Linked DNA regions of Homo sapiens. The protein of the gene in region 3 purifies or fractionates together with the protein of the main gene of each other region. This does not show direct contact. Each region holds a gene or a part of one and is shown on either strand. Other genes may lie near its edges.

Evidence for each region.
Region 1: the proteins of KYAT1 (region 3) and ZNF318 purify together in Homo sapiens (affinity purification with mass spectrometry; 2 studies listed by BioGRID and IntAct, with this or other methods). This does not show direct contact.
Region 2: the proteins of KYAT1 (region 3) and YEATS2 purify together in Homo sapiens (affinity purification with mass spectrometry; 2 studies listed by BioGRID and IntAct, with this or other methods). This does not show direct contact.

Annotation. Positions count from the first base shown.
Region 1 is NC_000006.12:43,352,560-43,356,211, forward strand, and holds part of ZNF318 (zinc finger protein 318), read right to left. Parts: intron 3,587-3,652; coding exon 2,105-3,586; intron 1-2,104.
Region 2 is NC_000003.12:183,704,208-183,707,859, reverse strand, and holds part of YEATS2 (YEATS domain-containing protein 2), read right to left. Parts: intron 1-3,652. UniProt on the Homo sapiens protein: Chromatin reader component of the ATAC complex, a complex with histone acetyltransferase activity on histones H3 and H4. YEATS2 specifically recognizes and binds histone H3 crotonylated at 'Lys-27' (H3K27cr).
Region 3 is NC_000009.12:128,840,314-128,843,965, reverse strand, and holds part of KYAT1 (kynurenine--oxoglutarate transaminase 1), read left to right. Parts: intron 1-805; exon of another isoform or gene 806-1,164; coding exon 1,165-1,312; intron 1,313-3,652. Other genes in the region: KYAT1-SPOUT1 (uncharacterized protein LOC127739546), read left to right, coding at 1,165-1,312. UniProt on the Homo sapiens protein: Catalyzes the irreversible transamination of the L-tryptophan metabolite L-kynurenine to form kynurenic acid (KA), an intermediate in the tryptophan catabolic pathway which is also a broad spectrum antagonist of the three ionotropic excitatory amino acid receptors among others.

The DNA.
Region 1 (3,652 bases), on a different chromosome or scaffold from region 3:
ACATTATCTGAATGTAAGGATCCAAATGCCTGCACACAGGCTCTGACCTTACTGTCAAAGTAATATTTCGTTCTAAGTTCCAGAATAGAACTGTCCATCTTTTCAAAAACTATACTGTCCAGAAAGGTTGTTTGTTTGTTTTTTGCAGGAAGGATCTAGGGCACTGATAGCAACTATTAGATAGTGGTTCTAAGTTCCAAAGGGAACCATAGATAAAGGAACCATATGTGTTATAGGTAAGGGACATATTTCATGTTGTTTATTTTCACTGCTCCTTGCAAACCAGGGATAACCCATAGGCAGTATGCCCAGAGTAGCATGTTGTTTAATCCTCACATTTTCACTATTTTATAGTCAGAAAACTGAAGTTGTACAAGATTAAGTAGAATACTCAAAGTCACACATTAAGAGTAGATTTACAATCCAGGTATATCTGCCCTAAAGCTCATGATCTTTCAACTATACTACTACCTAATGAAAAAAAGCAAATATGGCTTGTCTATACTATACCAGCATATAATAGGCCTGTATGTGTCTATAATAGACCTATGTATTATCAGCGCCCTGACTTAAGGACTAGATTTATAAAAGGAAAATAAAGAGGAAGTGTATGACCTCCAAACACTGTCTCTAAAGTTTTGTCTACATTGAACCTATTCCCTTTCCCAAAAGACTTCAGTAAAACTAAAGATTGAAGTTCAGGGTATTTAAGTCCAATAGAAACTTAAGAGAAGTGTTTTTTGTCTTCCCAATAATTGGCTAAAACTTTTTAACCGGAAAAAAATGAGACTGGCCCTCTAATTTTTTTCTTCAGAACTTTTTTTTTTTTTTTTGAGATGGAATCTTGCTCTGTTGCCCAGGCTGGTGTGCAGTGGCATGATCTCAGCTCACTGCAACCTCCATCTCCTAGGTTCAAGCAATTCTCCTGCCACAGCCTCCTGAGTAGCTGGGACTACAGGCGCGTGCCACCACACCCGGCTAATTTTTTGTATTTTTAGTAGAGACAGGGTTTCACCGTGTTAGCCAGGATGGTCTTGATCTTCTGACCTCGTGATCCACCCGCCTCAGCCTCCCAAAGTGCTGGGATTACAGGCATGAGCCACCACGCCCAGCCAGGTCTTAACTTTTATGAGCAAACCAAATTAGACACATTACATTTTTATGTTTCTAAACAAAGTGAGTTGCTAGGTATAAGCACCTTTACAATTAATAGTATGTATTAACTCTTCCACTCAAAATTCTTCTATTATGTATTCCCTATCTTGATGTAGTTTTCACCTACTGCTCTAAATTATCAGAATTATTAGAATTATTATATCTTTACCCCAGTCACTGCTTTCTTCCCACAGGCTGGGGACCCAATGAACCTGGATAATATAAAAAATGACTTTAGAGGCCAGGCACAGTGGCTCATGCCTGTGATCCCAGCACTCTGGGAGAGGCTGGCAGGGGAGGATCACTTGAGCCCAAGAGTTCAAGATCAGCCTGGGCAACAGTGAGAAGACTCCATCTCTATATAAAATATACGTATACATACACACACATACACACACACACACACGTAATTTTTTAAATAAATAACATGTCAAAAATGTTACTGTTACTCCTGGACTCTAAGATAAACCAGAACAAGCAAAGTTTATTTCTTGGTTTGCTTCAATTATCAAGCAACAACTAGTTATTAACTTTAACTCATAATCATTACAGGGTAAGAATACAGAATTCACTGGGATCAAACAGGTTTACTGATTCTCCTTCACCACACCCAATTTTGGTTCCCTACTCCACTACGAAATCATATTGAAGACTTCAAGGCTCCCAGTTCCTATCTACAGTGTTTGAAGACCATTAACTTGGATAGAATTAAACTTAAAAAAGGCTGACAATCACAATAGGACCCAAGGCCAGACTTTTGTTTAGTCCTAATGATAAAACATGTGTGAAAAACAGAGGAACAATATACACTTCTTAGGATGATGACAGCAGCCTCCAGACGACTTCAAGTGAAAGAGCCTTACAAATTTTCAGCCCCTTCTAAAAAACATATACAAATTTATGGCAAAACAGAAAACTCAGGCACAGGATACCCAAAGCTAATATTCACCTTTTGCTTCTGGGAAGCACGGTTCTTCTCATCAGAGATCTTCTCTGGATTATATCTTATGAGTGATGGAATGGACACCTGGACAGGCACTTGGGCCGCAGGAATTGAGCCTCGCAGAGACTCTTTCTGCTTAGGCTTATCAGGAGTCACAGTGGGGATCACACGAAGATTGGGACGGCTACGAGTAGCTTGTTTGGTTATTGGCATTATCCTGTGTGGTTCAGGTACAGGGTGGTTTGACGGTTGAGAGGTGGGATACATGGGCCATCTGGAGGCTGCATATGCCATGTAGTGCCTATAGGCATCAAAAGAGGCAGGGGGAATGGCAGGTCCCTGGTAGTTCGGAGGTATCCGAGCTGCAGCAAACTGAGAGGCCCTTGGCATGTGAAACTGAGATAAAGCAGCAGTGTGTGGAAGTCTAATTGGGGCAGATGGGGCTGATGGCAACATGCACCTGACTGCAACAGATGACTGAAACCCACTACCAACCACCTCTGGTCCTGAAATATGACCCACTGGATGGTCAGACTTTAGGAATGGAGGGCTGTTTTTTGTGAGCAGGTAAGGATCCACAGGAGAAGGTGGGTGTGGATGGGACACCTCTGGAGAGTGGGTATTGCTATGATGTGCCTCCCTGCTCTCTAGTCTGTGGGGATCTGAGGAACGTCGATCAGCTGAGAAGCAGTGGTCAACTGAGGAACAGCGGTCAGCTGAGAAGCGGTGGTCAACTGAGGAACAGTGGTCAGCTGAAAAGTATCGGTCAACTGAGGAACGGCGGTCAGCTGAGGAGCGTAATGATGGCTTCTTGCCATGAAGTCGTTCCTGGGTGCGTGCAGCCAATTGACTAATCTCTGCTACTCCAATATCCAGCCCTATTGTCTTGAGCAAGTCATGGATCTTCGCATATTCTGGATTGGTCTCTTCTAGTGATTCTAGCTTTACAGCTGGAGCTGAAGACGGCAGGGAGCTTGCCTTCTGCCTCATAACTTCACTCTCAGAGCTCCCAAGGGGCTTTGGTACGGATTCTGCCTTTAAATCCTCTTCTTCATCCCCATAGAGAAATTTCTCCTCATCTTCAATGTCGGGAAAGCTACGTCGCCTTTTTTCCTGTGTACTGGTAGAATCAGCCAACATGCTCAGAATGCGGGAAAAACCACTGCCATCCTGGCTAGCTCTCTCATGGGGCAGCAGGAAGTCTGTGTGTCGCTCAGGTCCCTCAGCCTTCAAATCCAAATTATCCTTGTGGCATAGAAAACTTCCAAATTTTTCTCTGAGAGGACTGTTGTCTTTGGGAATCCCAGGAAGGGGACCCCATTGGTAGAGGTTGCCCTGAGGTTCCTTCAAGGCAGTCTCTACCATAGTCCCCTTGTTTTCAATCTCTGAGGCAAAAGCAGCAATAGCACCACTTAGTGGAAGGGATGGGTGCCCAGAGTAGAGAGGGTGATCCTGGCTGGAGCTGGTACTGCTGGAAAAACTCTCAAGCTGCAAAGACAAACACAACTGATTTAGTCTTATGCAGAATCTCAGAACATTAGTAATTGAGATAAA
Region 2 (3,652 bases), on a different chromosome or scaffold from region 3:
TACCAAAAATACAAAAAATTAGCTGGGCATGGTGGCATGCACTGTTATCCCAGCTACTCAGGGCAGGAGAATTGCTTGAACCCGGGAGGCAGAGGTTGCAGTGATCCGAGATTGCGCCACTGCACTCCAGCCTGGGTGACAGAGTGAGACTTCGTCTCAAAAAAAAAAAAAAAAAAAAAAATAGGTGGGGAAGGGGAGTAGTACAATCATTTTCTATCTGCTTCCATACAGACAGGCATTCCTAAGATGCTGATAATGATTTCATAGTTCCTGGCCCTGTCCTTTCTACAGTCTTAAAAGAAAATACATTCTCTTTTGTAAACAAGACAACCAGTGTTCCTTTATTAAATATCTGAATAAGACTCTACAATCCATTTTCCATTAGCCAATGACATTTCAAAAATGTCTCAAAAGTCCAAACCAGAGGAATGGACGAACAAATCGTGGTATACTCAATGAACTCTTGATGCAGGCAACAACAGAAATGAACCTCAAAATCATTATGGCAAGCCAAAGAAGGCAAACACAAGAGTACAAGCTAAATTATCCCACTTAAGTTCTAGAAGAGACAAATTAATCTATAGTGAAAGAAATGAGAATCATAGTTGGAGGTGCTGGTGTTAGGGACTGACTGGGAAGAGGAATGAAGACTTTTTTCTTAGAAATATTTTATTCAGGTTGAGTATTCCTTACCCAAGATGCCTGGGACCAGAACTGTTTCAGATTTCATACTGTTTTGGATTTTGGAATATTTGCATATACATAGTAAGATATCTTTGGGAAGGAACCCAAATCTAAACATGAAATTCATTTACGCTTCATAAATATCTTACACACAGAGCCTGAAGGTAATTTTATACAACATTTTAAATAATTCAAAACATAACACAAAGTTTTGACTATGTTTTAACTGACCAGTCACAAGGTCAGGTGTGAAATTTTCCACTGTGGCATCATGTTGGTGCTTAAGAAGTTTCAGATTTTGGAGCATTTAAGATTCAGATTTTTGGATTACCAATGCTCCACCTAACTTTTTTTTTTTTGAGACAGAGTTTCGCTCTTGTTGTCCAGGCTGGAGTGCAATGGCACAATCTCAGCTCGCGGCAACCTCCGCCTCCCGGGTTCAAGCGATTCTCCTGCCTCAGCCTCCTGGGTAGCTGGGATTACAAGTATGCGCCACCGCGCCGGGCTAATTTTGTATTTTTAGTAGAGACGGGGTTTCTCCATGTTGGTCATGCTGGTCTCGAACTCCCGATCTCAGGTGATCTGCCCGTCTTGGCCTCCCACAGTGCTCCACTAATCTTAATAAGAGTGTAGGTTAGATGGGTATGTATATCCAATTGCAAAAACACCCAACTGTACACGCAAAATCTGTATTTCACTGTCTGTAAACTATACCTCACTTTAGAAAAGGACAATAAGAATATTTTTCTGATCATGTCATCCCCTGCTTGAATCCTTCAAATAGCTTTTCATAACATTTAGAACAAATTTCCATTCCTTAACATGACCTAAGAGATGTGAACTGCGCCCTGTCTCCCTCTCCATCCTTAATCTTTAAGATCCAGACAGGTTGGTTTTCTATCCCTCAAATATACTCCCAATTTTCCTTTGAGCTTTTGGAATCATGGCTCCTTCTATCTGGAATGCTCTTTTCTTAGGTTAGCTTAATCAGATTCCAGCTGAAATCTCCCCCTTATCAGGGGCCTTCCTTGACCGTGCCCCATCCAACACAGCTCTCCCTACCTTCTCCCTCCAAAGTTCCTGGAAGTGCTCAATATTACTATCTGGAAAAATAAATGAAGGATTTTTTTTTTTTTTTTGAAACAGTCTTGCTCTGTCACCCAGGATGGAGTGCAGTGGTGCGATCTTGGCTCACTACAAGCTCCGCCTCCCGGGTCAGGCCATTCTCCTGCCTCAGCCTCCCGAGTAGCTGGGACTACAGGCGCCCGCCACCATGCCTGGCTAATTTTTTTGCATTTTTACTAAAGATGGAGTTCCACCATGTTAGCCAGGATGGTCTCGATCTCCTCAACTCGTGATCTGCCTGCCCCGGCCTCCCAAAGTGCTGGGATTAGAGGCGTGAGCCACTGCGCCCAGCCATAAATGAAGGATTAACTAAAATATCTGCCAAAATATAAATGACCACAGGGAACATAACTACTACCTTACATTAGTTTTCATCATTAATCTATTTGTTGATATTGCTACATCTTTAAAGGCTCTTTAGCTAAATGTTTAAAAGAATGTACAAAGTTATTATACACAGACACATGCAAACAAAAAGACAGTAAGCAAGGCAATATTAATAATAGAATTCAAGGCAAAAAAAATAACATGATAAAGATGATGTTATTAAAGGCACAATCACAAAAATACATCTTAAACTATACATCCAACAATATAGTATCAAAATACATACAACAAACAGAAAAAGGAAAGTTTAAGAAATCACACATCTCTATATAAAATTTAAAAGATTAAGACAATTTATAAAAATACAGATGATAGGCCGGGCGTGGTGGCTCACGCTTGTAATCCCAGCAGTTTGGGAAGTTGAGGCAGGTGACTCGCTTGAGCTCAGGAGTTCAAGACCACCCTGGGCAACACAGTGAAACCCTGTCTCTACAAACAATACAAAAATTAGTTAGGAGTAGTGGCAAGCACCTGTACTCCCAGCTACTTGGGCAGCTGAGGTAGGAGGATTGCTTGAGCCCAGGAGATGGAGCCTGCAGTTAAGCTGAGATCGCGCCGTTGCACCTCCAGCCTGGGTGACAGAGCCAGACCCCGTCTCAAACAAAACAAACACAACAAACAAAAAAGATGATATAGATATATATCTGGTAATTAACAAGCCAGAATTAACAAATACACACAACTCTGAACCCAACAGAAAAAAATCTTTTAAAAATATCTATAAAAGTTCATTAAGGTCGGATGCAGTGGCTCATGCCTGTAATCCCAGCATTTTGGGAGTCCAAGGTGGGTGGATCACTTGAGGACAGGAGTTTGAAACTAGCCTGGCCAATGTGGTAAAACCCCGTCTCTACTAAAAATACAAAAATTAGCTGGGCATAGTTGTGGATACCTGTAATCCCAGCTACTTGGGAGGCTGAGGCAGGAGAACTGCTGAACCCAGGAAGTGGAGGTTGCAGTGAGCCGAAATCACGCCACTGCACTCCAGCCTGGGCAACAGAGTGAGACTCTGTCTCAAAAAAAAAAAAGTTCATAAAATGTAAATCATACAGTAAGATATGAAGAAAGTCTCAAATTACTGCAAAATGTAGAAATATTACAGCCACATTCTGATCTTAATAAAAATTAATATTAGCTCACCATGATATGGAAAATAAGACACTCTTCTAATAACTCATGACTCAAAGAAGAAATTAAAACTAAAGTAACAGACTATTTAAAAACTAACGAGAACACAGTATCTCCAAACCTATGGAAATGTGGTCAAAAGTCACCATCAGAGGAAAATGGCAAACAAGCTTTCACTGCAAATACACATACAAATCCAATCCAGCAGGGTATTAAAAGCATAATGCATCATAACTGGAAAGTTTTATTGCCAGCAACAGAAAAAGAAACAAGCAGAACGAACAAAGGCTAAATCCTAAAACCAAAGTGGGGAGATCTAGAACGAAGG
Region 3 (3,652 bases):
AGGCTTTAGGCAAGTCACTCCACTCCTTATCCCCACAGTGGTCCAGGAACAAGATGTGCCTCACAGGCCATTGTGAAGGCTATATGAGCAGAGCGTTTAACTGTGGTGTTGACGAATCCAAGGAGGAGTCATGCAATCTGTACAGGGGGTCTCAACTAGTATTTGGAAAGAATAGAGTAGGATAGGACAGGACAGAAAATACTGCAGTAGATTGCACCAAGAAGGATGAAGCTTCCATTCCATGTTTGTGCTCCACAGGGTTGATGATGCAAAGGTGATTTCTTGGCCGGTAGTGGTGGCTCACGCCTGTACTGCTAGCACTTTGAGAGGCCAAGGGGGGCGGTGGATCACCTGAGGTCAGGAGTTCGAGACCAGCCTGGCCAACATAGCAAAACCCCATCTGTACTAAAAATACAAAAATTAGCTGGGCGTGGTGGCGGGTGCCTGTAATCCCAGCTACTCAGGAGGCTGAGGCATGAGAATCGCTTGACCTCGGGAGGCGGAGGTTGCAGTGAGTTGAGATTGCACCACTGCACTCCAGCCTAGGGGATAGAGCGAAACTCTGTCAAAAAAAAAAAAAAAAGATGATTTCTTCCTATGGGTCATGGTGGAAGAACTTGGAAAGCCCCTGGGCTGATTCCTGCGATTAACAATGTGCCTGACTGACCTAATCTCAATGTAGGGGACCAGCTGTGACACTTAGGCAGATCTTCAGGCCAGGACAGTTGCTGATTGTCTAGTTTTTGTTTTTCTTGTGTGTGTATGTGTGTGTTTTTTGTTTTTTGTTTTTGTTTTTTTAAGACAGAATCTCACTCTTGTTATCCAGGCTGCAGTGCAATGGTGCGATCTCGGCTCACTTCAACCTCCGGTTCCCGGGTTCAAGTGATTCTTCTGCCTCAGCCTTCCAAGTAGCTGGGATTACAGGCCCCTGCCACCATGCCTGACTAACTTTTGTATTTTTAGTGAAGACAGAGTTTCACCATGTTGGCCAGGCTGGTCTCAAACTCCTGACCTCAGGTGATCCGCCCACCTCGGCCTCCCAAAGTGCTGGGATTACAGGCGTGAGCCACCACACCTGGCCGGTTGTCCAGTTTTTCTAAACAGGCCGAAGTCCAGGTCACCATGGAGGGCTGGGCTGGTGCTGATTCTCCATTTGTTACCCAGGGTGGAGTTTGTGAAACTGGCCAGTGAGCATGACGTCGTGAACTTGGGCCAGGGCTTCCCGGATTTCCCACCACCAGACTTTGCCGTGGAAGCCTTTCAGCACGCTGTCAGTGGAGACTTCATGCTTAACCAGTACACCAAGACATTTGTGAGTCTCCCCATCTCTCGTGGAGGCACTGGGGGAGGAAGGGGACAGGGCTTTCTGGACTTCAAGCCCACACAGCTGTCAGGCTTCAGGGGACAGAGCCAGGGGATTCTGTATGACCATAGTTCAGTGTTTACTGAGCGTATCCTCTGTCCCAGAGCCTTCGCCTCGTGGTCTAGTGGGGATGGCAGACAAGAAGCCAGTAACGACAGGCAGTTGATACATGATGTGATGGAGGAGGATGGGATATCGTGCGAGTAAGAAAGAGGGAATGAAACCTGGGGAGGGGGCTGGAGAGATGCACGAAGACTTCCTGGAGGAGGTGACACTTAAACCAAGTCCTGAAAGATGAGCTACTGGTTGGATTACACAATAAATCCAAACGTTTTCCGGAAAGGACCACATAGTAAATATGTGACACTGCTTGGATTAGAACAGTGGTTCTTTTTTTCTTTTTCTTTTTTGAGACAAGGTCTCACTCTGTTATCCAGGCTGGAGTGCAATGGTGCGATCATGGTCCACTGCAGCCTTGACCCTGCCAGTCTCAAGTGGTCCTCCCACCTCAGCCTCTGGAGTAACTGGGACTACAGGTGTGCATCACCATGCCCAGCTAATTTTATTTATATATTTATTTATTTATTTTTGAGTCAGGGTCTCACTCCTGTCACCTAGGCTAGAGTGTAGTGACATGATCACGGCTCACTGCAGCCTGTACCTCATGGGGCTCACATGATATGCCATTTCCTGGGGCTCATGTGATCCTCCCACCTCAGCCTCTAGAGTTGCTGGGACAACAGGGGCATGCCACCTCACCCAGCTAATTTAGAGACAGGGTTTCACCATGTTGCTCAGACTGGTCTGAAACTCCTGGGCTCAAGTGATCCTGCCACCTCGGCCTCCAAAAGTGCTGGGATTACAGGCGTGAGCCACTGAACCCTCATTCTTTTTTTTTTTTTTTTTTTGAGATGGAGTCTCCCTCTGTCGCCAGGCTGGAGTGCAGGGGCGCAATCTCGGCTCACTGCAACCTCCCCCTCCCAGGTTCAAGAGATTCTCCTGCCTCAGCCTCCCGAGTAGCTGGGACTATAGGGGTGCGCCCCCACGCCCAGCTAATTTTTGTTTTGTTTTTTTTTTAAGACAGTCTCGCACTGTCGCCCCGGCTGGAGTCTGGAGTGCAGCGGCACGATCTCGGCTCACTGCAACCTCCGCCTCCGCCTCCGCCTCCGCCTCCTGGGTTCAAGCCATTCTCCTGCCTCAGCCTCTTGAGTAGTTGGGATTACAGGCGCCCGCCACCATGCCCAGCTAATTTTTGTATTTTTAGTAGAGACGGGGTTTCACCATGTTGGCCAGGCTGGTCTCAAACTCCCGACCTCGTGATTCGCCTGCCTCGGCCTCCCAAAGTGCTGGGATTACAGGCGTGAGCCACCGCACCTGGCCATTTTTTGTATTTTTAGTGGATACTGGGTTTCACCATGTTAGTCCGGTTGGTCTCGATCTCTTGACCTCGTGATCCACCCACCTCAGCCTCCCAGAGTGCTGGGATTACAGGCGTGAGCCACCGCACCCGACCGCACTCGTTCTTTTTAATGGCTGCATACTGTTCTGTTGCCTGGATGTGCCATAATTTATTTAAGCAGTTCTGCACTGATGGACTGCTTCTGCTATCTCAATATCATAAGCAATGCCACAGCAAATATCCCTGTGTGGACATCTTTGTATACATATGTATTTCTCTAAGATAAATTCCTGGAGGTAAAACTAGCAAAAGAAAGACTATAAATATTTATAAATACAATAGGTGGATATTGTTAAGAAACAGTGTGTGCCTATAATCCCAGCTACTTGGGAGTCTGAGGCAGGAAGATTGTTTGAGCCCAGGAGTTTGAGGCCAGTGCAACATAGTGAGATCCTGTCTGAAAAATAAACAAACAACTAAGTAAATAATTGCCCTCCAGTAAGGTTTACTCATTTACATCCCTGCCAATAGGCTGGTCTCAGAGCTGGTTGGAAAGTTCCTTCTTTGATCCAAAAAAAAAAAAAATCATTTGGGTATGTATCTTTTTCTTTTCTTTCTTTCTTTCTTTTTTTTTTCTTTTAACTAGAGACAAAAGCTGGGTATGGTGGCTCACGCCTATAATCCCAGCATTCTGGGAGGCTAAGGCTGGCAGATCACCTGAGGTCAGGAGTTCAAGACCAGCCTGCCCAACATGGTGAGATCCCATCTCTAATAAAAATTAGCTGGGCGTGGTGGTGGGTGCCTGTAATCCCAACTACTTGGGAGGCTGAGGCACAAGAATCGCTTGAACCCGGGAGGCGGAGGTTGCAGTGGGCCGAGGTGGTGCCATT